2 separate regions of the Homo sapiens genome follow, and region 2 is linked to region 1. The links come from fine-mapping of genetic effects on gene expression. A gene starts in region 1. The other region holds a variant in brackets. All regions are shown on one strand. Distances are between the middles of the regions. Region 1 holds the start of SMCP (sperm mitochondria associated cysteine rich protein). Region 2 holds the start of LCE1D (late cornified envelope 1D).

What was found. PIP is the estimated chance that this variant, and not a neighbour inherited with it, causes the effect. A credible set is the group of variants that fine-mapping cannot tell apart.
Region 2: its variant is the best candidate, but not a certain one, in a credible set for the expression of SMCP in cerebellum (GTEx, PIP 0.64).

The regions. Positions count from the first base shown.
Region 1 is chr1:152,876,569-152,880,962 of GRCh38, forward strand. It overlaps SMCP (sperm mitochondria associated cysteine rich protein), which reads left to right and starts at 1,754. Exons shown (of 2, transcript NM_030663.3): 1 at 1,754-1,878. RefSeq lists enhancers at 3,670-3,749, 3,880-3,939, 4,300-4,394.
Region 2 is chr1:152,793,885-152,798,278 of GRCh38, forward strand. LCE1D (late cornified envelope 1D) reads left to right here and starts at 2,837. Exons shown (of 2, transcript NM_178352.3): 1 at 2,837-2,887; 2 at 3,889-4,297. The coding sequence starts at 3,911. The coding sequence ends at 4,255. The variant G/A (reference allele first, on the strand shown) is at 1,843.

The sequences.
Region 1 (4,394 bases):
TTAACAACTAATGTGATCAAAATTTCATATTTGTTGCCAGACTGTCATAGAAAAGCCAGTGTCTCATTGATCTTCTGGTTTGCATTCCTTTAGTTATGAATAAGCATTTCTTCATAGATTTGTTGGCCATTTCCACCTCTCTCTCTCACTCTACCTCTCTCTCCCTCTCCGTACTCTTCCTAGAAAGAACTTAATTCTTATAGATTAAGGCTTTGGTCCCAACTACAATGTTAGAGACTTTGGGAGATGTGAATAAGAGTAGACATTTTACTGAGAATAAATTTTAGAGATAACTATAAGCATGAAGACCTGAAGAAGACAAGTAAAAGAGAAATACTTGAATAGGCTATTATAGAATGAAAAGCACAATTCACATACTTCCCAAGAGTGCTACCCTTTGGCCGAGGTGGTTCTGTCCTGGACTTCAGACTTTAAAGAGTCCTTCTCTGGCTCTCCTCCAGCCATGACCCACCCCCATAGGATGATTCAATAGGTCCAGGGTACAGGCCCAGAGCTGCTGTCTCTCTCACTCCAGCTATCCAGGACCCCAGAAATCTCTGTCAACTGGCCCTGAGATCACCTTTATGTGTCTATCCTCTTGAAGACTCAAACAGCCAATACTGTGCTCACTTCTAGGTCTCAATGACCAAGAGAGGGGCAGTTTGAGAGATCCATGTATGAAAAGAACATGGACGGTATGGACTAGGATATTTACACTCATGCACGCCCGAGGTCCCTCGTGACACAAGATGAAGCCAGGGAGTAGGAAGAGAACCAGGGGTGAACCACAGGGGTCAGAAGCCTCTGTTTGTGCTCTTGCCTGGTGTCCTACAAATGTTTATGGCAGGCATGCTTCCCAGAAGAACAGAATTTCCTAGTCACTGTCCTCAAAGAGGCCATGCTACAGGAAGAAAAGGAAAGAGTAAACATAATGAAATGCTTCTCTCTTATCATTATTTTAGTCAATTCACTATTCAATTGATTCAGTTTCAGAATCTTTTATGTGCCAATTGCTCAGCCAGACACTGGGAATATCAAAGTGAATAAAATAGGGTCCTGGCCCCTAAGGCATCCCAGTTTCTCCCCTGTTTAAAACCTTTCAGTGGTTCCCATTGTCCTCAGGATAAAGTCCAAACTCTTTTTCTTATGGCATAAAGGTCCTCACCAACACAGCCTTACCTACCTAGGTAGGTGAATCTCCCCCTTCTCCTTACTCCCCACTCTGCTCCAGCCACACTGAGCTTTTCCACCAAATAGCCTATACTTTCACATTTCTGGATCTGAAAATGTCCTCCCAGACACACCCCTATGTCCAACTTCCTATTTCCAATTTCCAAGTCTCAGCTTAAATATCACTCCCTCCAGGAAGCATATCTGACCCCCAAACCTGACCCCTGTGCTTATCCTACCATCATTATTATCACATGGTATTGTTGGCTATTGACTTGCCTCCATATTGAATTAGATCTTTGAGAATGGGAACTACATCCCATTGAGCTACACTTCACTTTTTAGGACAGAGCCTGGTAGATAGGAGACAATCAATACAGATTTGTGTTTTAGGTTATTGCATGCTTATGGGTTAGCTAGGGAGCTTTCTTTTTATCTTTCAGGAAAGAAACCAAAGAGACAGACTCTCCAGCAGGCAGGGGGCGCCAGTGAGTGAGCTAGGCATAGAGTCTTGTGGAGAGAATTATGGTGTCATAGAGGCTTAGAATCTTGGCATTAGCAGGGAAGGGAACCCATCTGGTTCAGAAGGCTTTGGCTTCTGATAGTCATGGACTCACTAGGCTGCTGAGGAAGATCAATAATACCTACTGGAATCAGTCATGAGAAGTCAAGCATGGAAATTGTGAATTGTGTGTGTGGCCAGACCAGGTAACACAGAGAAACATTGTCTTTTGGGTCCTCTCTCCATGGCTTTTTCATGTGTTCATTAGTTCATTACGTATTTACCTACTGAGACCCATGCAATGCCATTCAGTGTGTTGGATGAGAGGATTCCAGGATTCATCCTATCTTTCAGGAAAAAGCTCCTGCTTCTATTTAAGAGGAAGACATGGGAGCCACTGGGGGTGGGGATAGTGAGAATGCCTGTGTTTATGGAACTAACAGACCACAAAAGTGAGACAATTGGGAAAATAATAACCACTATAAAAATGTAATGGGAAGTACAGGGGATCCAAGAAAGCCTTTCAGGGAGATGGAGGTTTTGGGTTAAGGAAGTTTTCCTCGAGGAGTGATGTGTAAGCAGAGACTTCAGGTTTGAACGATATTCAGTGAGCATGTGGGGACAGAGACCCAGGAAGGGTGGTTTAAGCTGGGAAAGAGCACATTCAAAGACCTGGAAAGAGGTGAGAAAATTCAGCAGGTGTCTGCTCTGAGCCAGTCTGGTGCCTGAGGGAACAGTGTTTGGACATGAGGCTGGGCCTGTGGGCAGAGGGAGAAGGTGCCTTGCCAGAGCCCTCCTGGTGGTTTGGGCTCTGTATCAATCCTCTCTGAATAGAGCAATAAGAGCTAGGAAGATGGCCCTGGCCTTGCACCACAAGTGTTTGACATGATTAGGCAGATTTCCTGAGGCAGGCTGTGCACAGCATGGTTGGGAAGGAAGGGAAATGGAGCTTGGAGAGAATATTTATTTATTTGTTTGTTTCTTTTTATTTATTTATTGAGATGGAGTCTCACTCTGTCACCCAGGCTGGAGTGCAGTGGTGAGGTCTCGGCTCACTGTAACTTCTACCTCCCGGATTCAAGTGATTCTCCTGCCTCAGCTTCCCAAGTAGCTGGTATTACAGGTGCACGCCACCACACCCAGCTAATTTTTGTATTTTCAGTAGAGATGGAGTTTTGCCATGTTGGCCAGGCTGGTCTCAAACTCCTGACCTCAAGTGATTCACCCGTCCCAGCCTCCCAAAGCGCTGGGACAACAGGTGTGAGCCATTGTGCCCGGCCAAGGAGAGAATCTTAAGAAGAAACTCTTGCAGGAGGCAGAGGGGTCCAGGAGGCAGGTTTGTTGGACAGGAGCCAGGGTTCTGAAAGTGGAGGATATAGATACTATTCACCAGGCAGAAGGAAGACAGTGGAGACAGCACTGGCTCAGAGGGGCAGGACCTGCATCCATGGGGGTGAGGTTGCAGAAGGACTTGATGTTGCCCTCCCTATGCTACAGTCAACAAGACTGGTTTCCAACCTGCTGTCCTTCTCTGATATTGCACAACCTCCACATTCAGGACCTATTCCCAGGATCTCACTATGGGGGACATGCTTGGAGTGGGGACATTGGTGGGACTGGTGAGGCAAGCCCCTGGACCTGGGCTCCAGGTGCCTCTGATGCCTCTGCACCTCTGATCACTGGAATGAGAATTGCTTCTGTAGAAACAGCTCAGTCTGGACTTGTAAAGATGGACACTAACAAACTGGACTTCCAAGTGGTGATGAGACTCTGCACTTTGGTCAATTCAGGGCACTGACCTTCAGAGTAGAGAAAGGTAAACCAGAGACAAAAGACAGAAAGGTAGAGACAGAATGAAGACCAGAGAATGATAGAGAGGCAGAGAGGAAAAAAAAATAGCAAAAGGCAAAAATAAACACAGAGAGGAACAACAGAAAATAAAAACAGAAGGGGCTCACTCCTCCCTCGTCCCTCTCAAAACCTAGTCTTAGGTCTGACCTCTAAGGGAGCAGATTCAAACAACAAGGAGATACGGACAGATACTGGGCTCCCTGCATACCCCGGCACACCCAAATTCACCACTGTACAGCTGCAGGGGCACCCAAGTGTGTGCTTGTGTGTGCGTGTGGACACACACACACACTTCCTGTCAAACAGCTTTGAACACTGCAAAGGTGGTAGAGAACATGGCCCTGTACTCTCTCACCTCTTCCCTATTTTTATACTGGTCTGTCTCCGTCTTATTTCCATTTTTGGTGTGCCTCTCCATTGCTCACCTCTCTCCTTCCTGTTCTCTCTCGGGCAAGTCAAGGCATCGCAGGGCCTGTATCTGCCACCTCAGCCTCTTTGCAGCTTCCTCTGACCTAGAAGGAGCAATAGGGTGACTTGTCCCCACCCCCATCCTTTAGGAGTCTTTGCTCTAGTGTCTTCCTCTTAAATGGAAGCAGGGGCCTTTTCCTGAAAGATAGGATGAATCCAGGAATAACTGGCAGAGATAGAGTCATGACTGAATTAAAGCCAACATCCTAACCCAAGTCACTCTCCCCTTTTTAGGTGGGAACTGCCCTTGACCCAGTTCAGGCTGCAGCCATATAGCCAGGGACTTAGGATCATGAAAGGTTTATACCAGGTGGCAGGGCCTTAAGAGATAACTCTTCCCTCCCAATCTTCTCTCACCCTAATGCTGTAGTTCAGGAGATTCAAACATAGGGGTCCTTATAAG
Region 2 (4,394 bases), 83 kb before region 1:
GTTGCAGTATATCAATATATTAACAATCATAACAACAACAGCAATAAAAATATTTTTAAAATATACTATTTAAATAGAATAGAATTTTCTTCTAGACTTTAATAGTATTTTCTCATCACTGTAATTGTTTAAAGGGTTGTAGATATGGAAAGAACAAAACAAAGATTACTAACTTAACTTGTTACTGGTTATAGAACACATACAAAAAATTATTCCATTTGAATTATTTCTGGTTAGATCGCAATAGTATTCACTCACATCCCATGAGACGGTGAATTTTTGACTACCTAAAAGAGAAAAACCTTGACAAATAGGAAATTTCAGAAAGTCAGTGCTTTGCTGGACAAGATATCTTATTTGACCTAATAGCTAAGCCATGATATCTCATAGCCAAGATTCAAGTTCCAATCTTCCTAATACAACTATGTTGCTGACTCAACACCTACATCTGAGTTATGTCAGTTGAGAGCTTGGGTGTTGCCCTGCATGAAGACAGAGGCATGGACCAGATGGTATCCCAGCCCTATCATCCTAGATACCAGGAGTTGAACTTCTGAGTAGACCTGCCATTGTGACGACCTGGGAACCAATGTCCTGACCACTCCCCCATTACTAAGCCCTTTGGAACAATCTGAGCAGGAGAACAAATGTCATACCCAGGAGGGATGGTGTCAGACCTCTCAGGGTGATGTGGCCCACACACCTCACTGAGCCTGTCTCAGAGTGTGTCTCCTATGAGGGTGGCCTGAGTCATAAGGAATAGCTGTTTATAAACTGTAAATCAATGCTAATACCAATGAGAGCATTTAAAAGTCATTAAATATCCATTGTGCACATAGCTCTGTGTTGAAAAACGGAGGTAAGAAGTATGAAACACCCAAGGCAGGCCATCAAAGCATTTACTGTTATCTCATTAGAGTGATATGCCACATGAAGGATAAATAAAAAAGTGGGATTGAGCCACACTGTCCTGGAAGGGTAGAGGCCACGGCATGCACTGCAGGGAGAAGCATAATCAAAGTACAGAATATAATCCAGTTCAGTTTCAGAACATTTCTGAGAGTAGATGACAAAGGCTTAAACTAAAGGGAGAACACAGAGTCTTATTTCACTGAAGGAATTTGGACATTTACCCTTATACAGTGTGCAATCATGAACAAGACTTTACTAATGATTTAGTGTTAATTATGTACAGGGATGGAAGATGTTTTCTTGGATGTCATAAAAGAACAGAATCAAAGACACACTACAGTGTTTGGAGATACTACGTTATCACAGGAGTCTGGGCAGCTGTAATAATTGATGCTCTGAGACAGGTGGTACACACACATATACATCTCTCTCAATATGTATGCTCTGTATATGTGTTTATAAATATACATGTATCTCCACCACGTTTTGGTTAGGGTCACCATGTCCATTTTGACCTAGATATCATTCCCAAGTTCTGGGCATATCCAGAGTCTGTCAGGGGCTGGGAAGAAGAGGACTTGTCCCTCATATGGTTTAATCTGGCTTTTCTTGGTCTTCCTCTGAAGAAATAGTTTAATTTGTGGATAACCTTGCAGTCATGGCTGTCTTAGTGACTAGTGTGTCCTAGAATGAACAGCAGCCCATTTCATTAATATCCTAAAAATGTATAAATTCAGAACACTCCATTCATATAAATCCTGTGGACATGTAGAAAGCTAGTGATTCTAGTGGAGAGAGAGGAGAGGGGCTTCCAAAGTAGCAGCATAAACACATTCACATTAAATATTAAGGACTCTTGTTCTTAAAAGGCACCCGTCCCCTTATGGTCCAGGACGGGGTTCTGCCAGCCATTTGACCCCACATGGAAGC[G/A]TAGACTTATAATGTCTCACAACCATGTCTCTTTTCTTCCTGTTTCTCATCTGTGACCATCATCCGGTGCTCCCAGTGTGAACCCAGAAAAGTCCAAATTCTCACACCAATACAAAGAGCAGAGCTGCTGCTTCTTGTTTCTCTAATGAGCTGCTTCCTTGTTCACATCTCAGTGCTGACACATCAAGGACCCCACCAGAAGAAAAGGGCTATTTAAAAGCAAACAGATCACCAAACAGCCAGACTCACTCTCATTAGAAAAAAGCTGTGCTTCGTTTGTTAAACAAAGATCAGTATCTTCATTCTGTATTCAGCAAGTTATGAATGTTTCACTTATTCAGAGCCTACAATGTTTCAGTCTCTCTGTCAGGCACATTTTCTCTTTTTTGTGTTACTTTATTGACTTTCACAACCAACTAATTCTTCTGTAACTAATTCTTTTTCATCTTCCAGCTTTATGGTTTAAAAAATGGTACAGGCTAAATAGTTTCAACAGTCCCATCTCGCAGGGCCTGGTCCTGGGCCGGGTTATACTTCCAGGGTTTTACTTGTGTAGATGTCTACACTGCACCCACAGCCACACAGTTTGGTGGTGCACAGGGACAGAAATAAACATGCATGGAAACCTCAGGGATTAGTACTTCAACTTCAACCCAGGCTGCACGGAGCATCAGGTACTTCGGAAGAGACAGAAATGAGATAGGTCCTAAGTTCTAAGACTGAGAACTGAGAGGCTCTCAGGGCAAGCAGCCTTCAAGTGAATGAGGTAGGTGATGGTAGGAGTCATCCTGGAACCCCGTTTCAAGTAGGCACTTTCCTACCTGGGAGTGGCTGCCTTGAGCCTGGGGAGAGAGGCAGGTGAGGAGCTGTCAGTCACCAACCATCACAAGACCCACGTGGGTGTCAGAAGGAAGGTCCTCTCATGCCCAGGCCCTGTCTCACAGCTGGGGCAGAGCCCAGGCCAGGATAAAAGGGCTCAGGGCCAGACCACCCCATCCACTCACCTCCTGAGGTGCTAAAGAACCCTGTGCTGCCTGTGACTCCGGTAAGAACAGAGCAGGGATGCTCAGAACAGAGCAGGAGGGAAGGAGGGGCAGGGCCTCCGGGGCTAGGGCCATGTTGTCAGAGGTGGAGAGTTTAGAAAAGACTGAAGGGGCGGGGGCCAAAAGGGGTCTGGCACTAACTGGGAGCAGGAAGGAAAAGAGGAAAAGAGCTGGCGGGCTGTGCCATGTGCCTTTGAACTCTAGAGGAAACAAACTGCTCTGGGATGAGGTGGGTGTTCCAGAGTGGGAACTTTGAAGCACAGAGACCTGCTCCACTCTGGCAGCCCACAGGAGGGAAGCCCACCTCTGAAGATACAACCCTGTCTCTGCCTGCAAGGGAAGAACTGGAGCTGTGGACATGGGACTAAAGACTCTTTGGGGTTTATGAACCCCACATTTTCATGGGTCTGAGATTTGTTCACAAACTTCCCAGCTTGGTTAGGACACACCAAGCCTGAGACCCACCGTGTCATCCCATCAGCCTGAGCAGGTGGTGAGTGAGGAAGTCTGAGCTCCAACCTGAGATCAGGGGGTCAGGGTTCAAGTACTAGTCTGCAGAAACTGCTAAGTTTATCTGTCTCTATTGAAGTGAGTTTACTGACCTAGTAGTCTCCAAGATCCTGCACAATGCTGACCTTCCAAAGTAAAATCGTCTTGCAAATTATGACCAGAGAGAATGACTGCTTCTTCTCCTTTAAAAATAATTTTCTCTTAAATGACTCATAAATTAGACAATTTCAGTCTTAAGATATATTTGTAATAATTTCTTCCTCCACTGACAACACATCAGAATCTTAGATGCATTTTGCAATATTGTTTAGTCTTAGTTTACAGTTGTCTGACATCCAAAGATATCTTGAAAAAGATGATGTGAGATTTTGAGGAAATTATTGGAAATAAAACTACTGAAGATGATGCTTTTAAACTTGAGAGGTGCTAAGAGTGTCACAGGGGCAGAGGTGGCCTCTGCCTGGGTCTGACTTGTTATTTGACTCTCCCTCAGCTCCTGAACACCCACCACCGAGATGTCCTGCCAGCAGAGCCAGCAGCAGTGCCAGCCCCCTCCCAAGTGCACTCCCAAGTGCACTCCCAAGTGCCCCGCCCCTAAATGTCCCCCTAAGTGCCCTCCAGTCTCTTCCTGCTGCAGTGTCAGCTCCGGAGGCTGCTGTGGCTCCAGCTCTGGGGGCGGCTGTGGCTCCAACTCTGGGGGCTGCTGCAGCTCTGGGGGTGGTGGCTGCTGCCTGAGCCACCACAGGCGCCACAGGTCCCACCGTCGCAGACCCCAGAGCTCTGACTGCTGCAGCCAGCCCTCGGGGGGCTCCAGCTGCTGCGGTGGGGGCAGCAGCCAGCACTCTGGAGGCTGCTGCTGAAGTGGACCTTGACTTCCTCTTCCTTCTGATTCTGCCTGAATAGCTGAGAGGTTCCAGCAAAAGCTTGAAGTCTTGCCTGGAGAATCCCTCTGCTCTGGTGTCAGGAAACCCAAAATCTTTCTCCTTAATGGCATTTAGA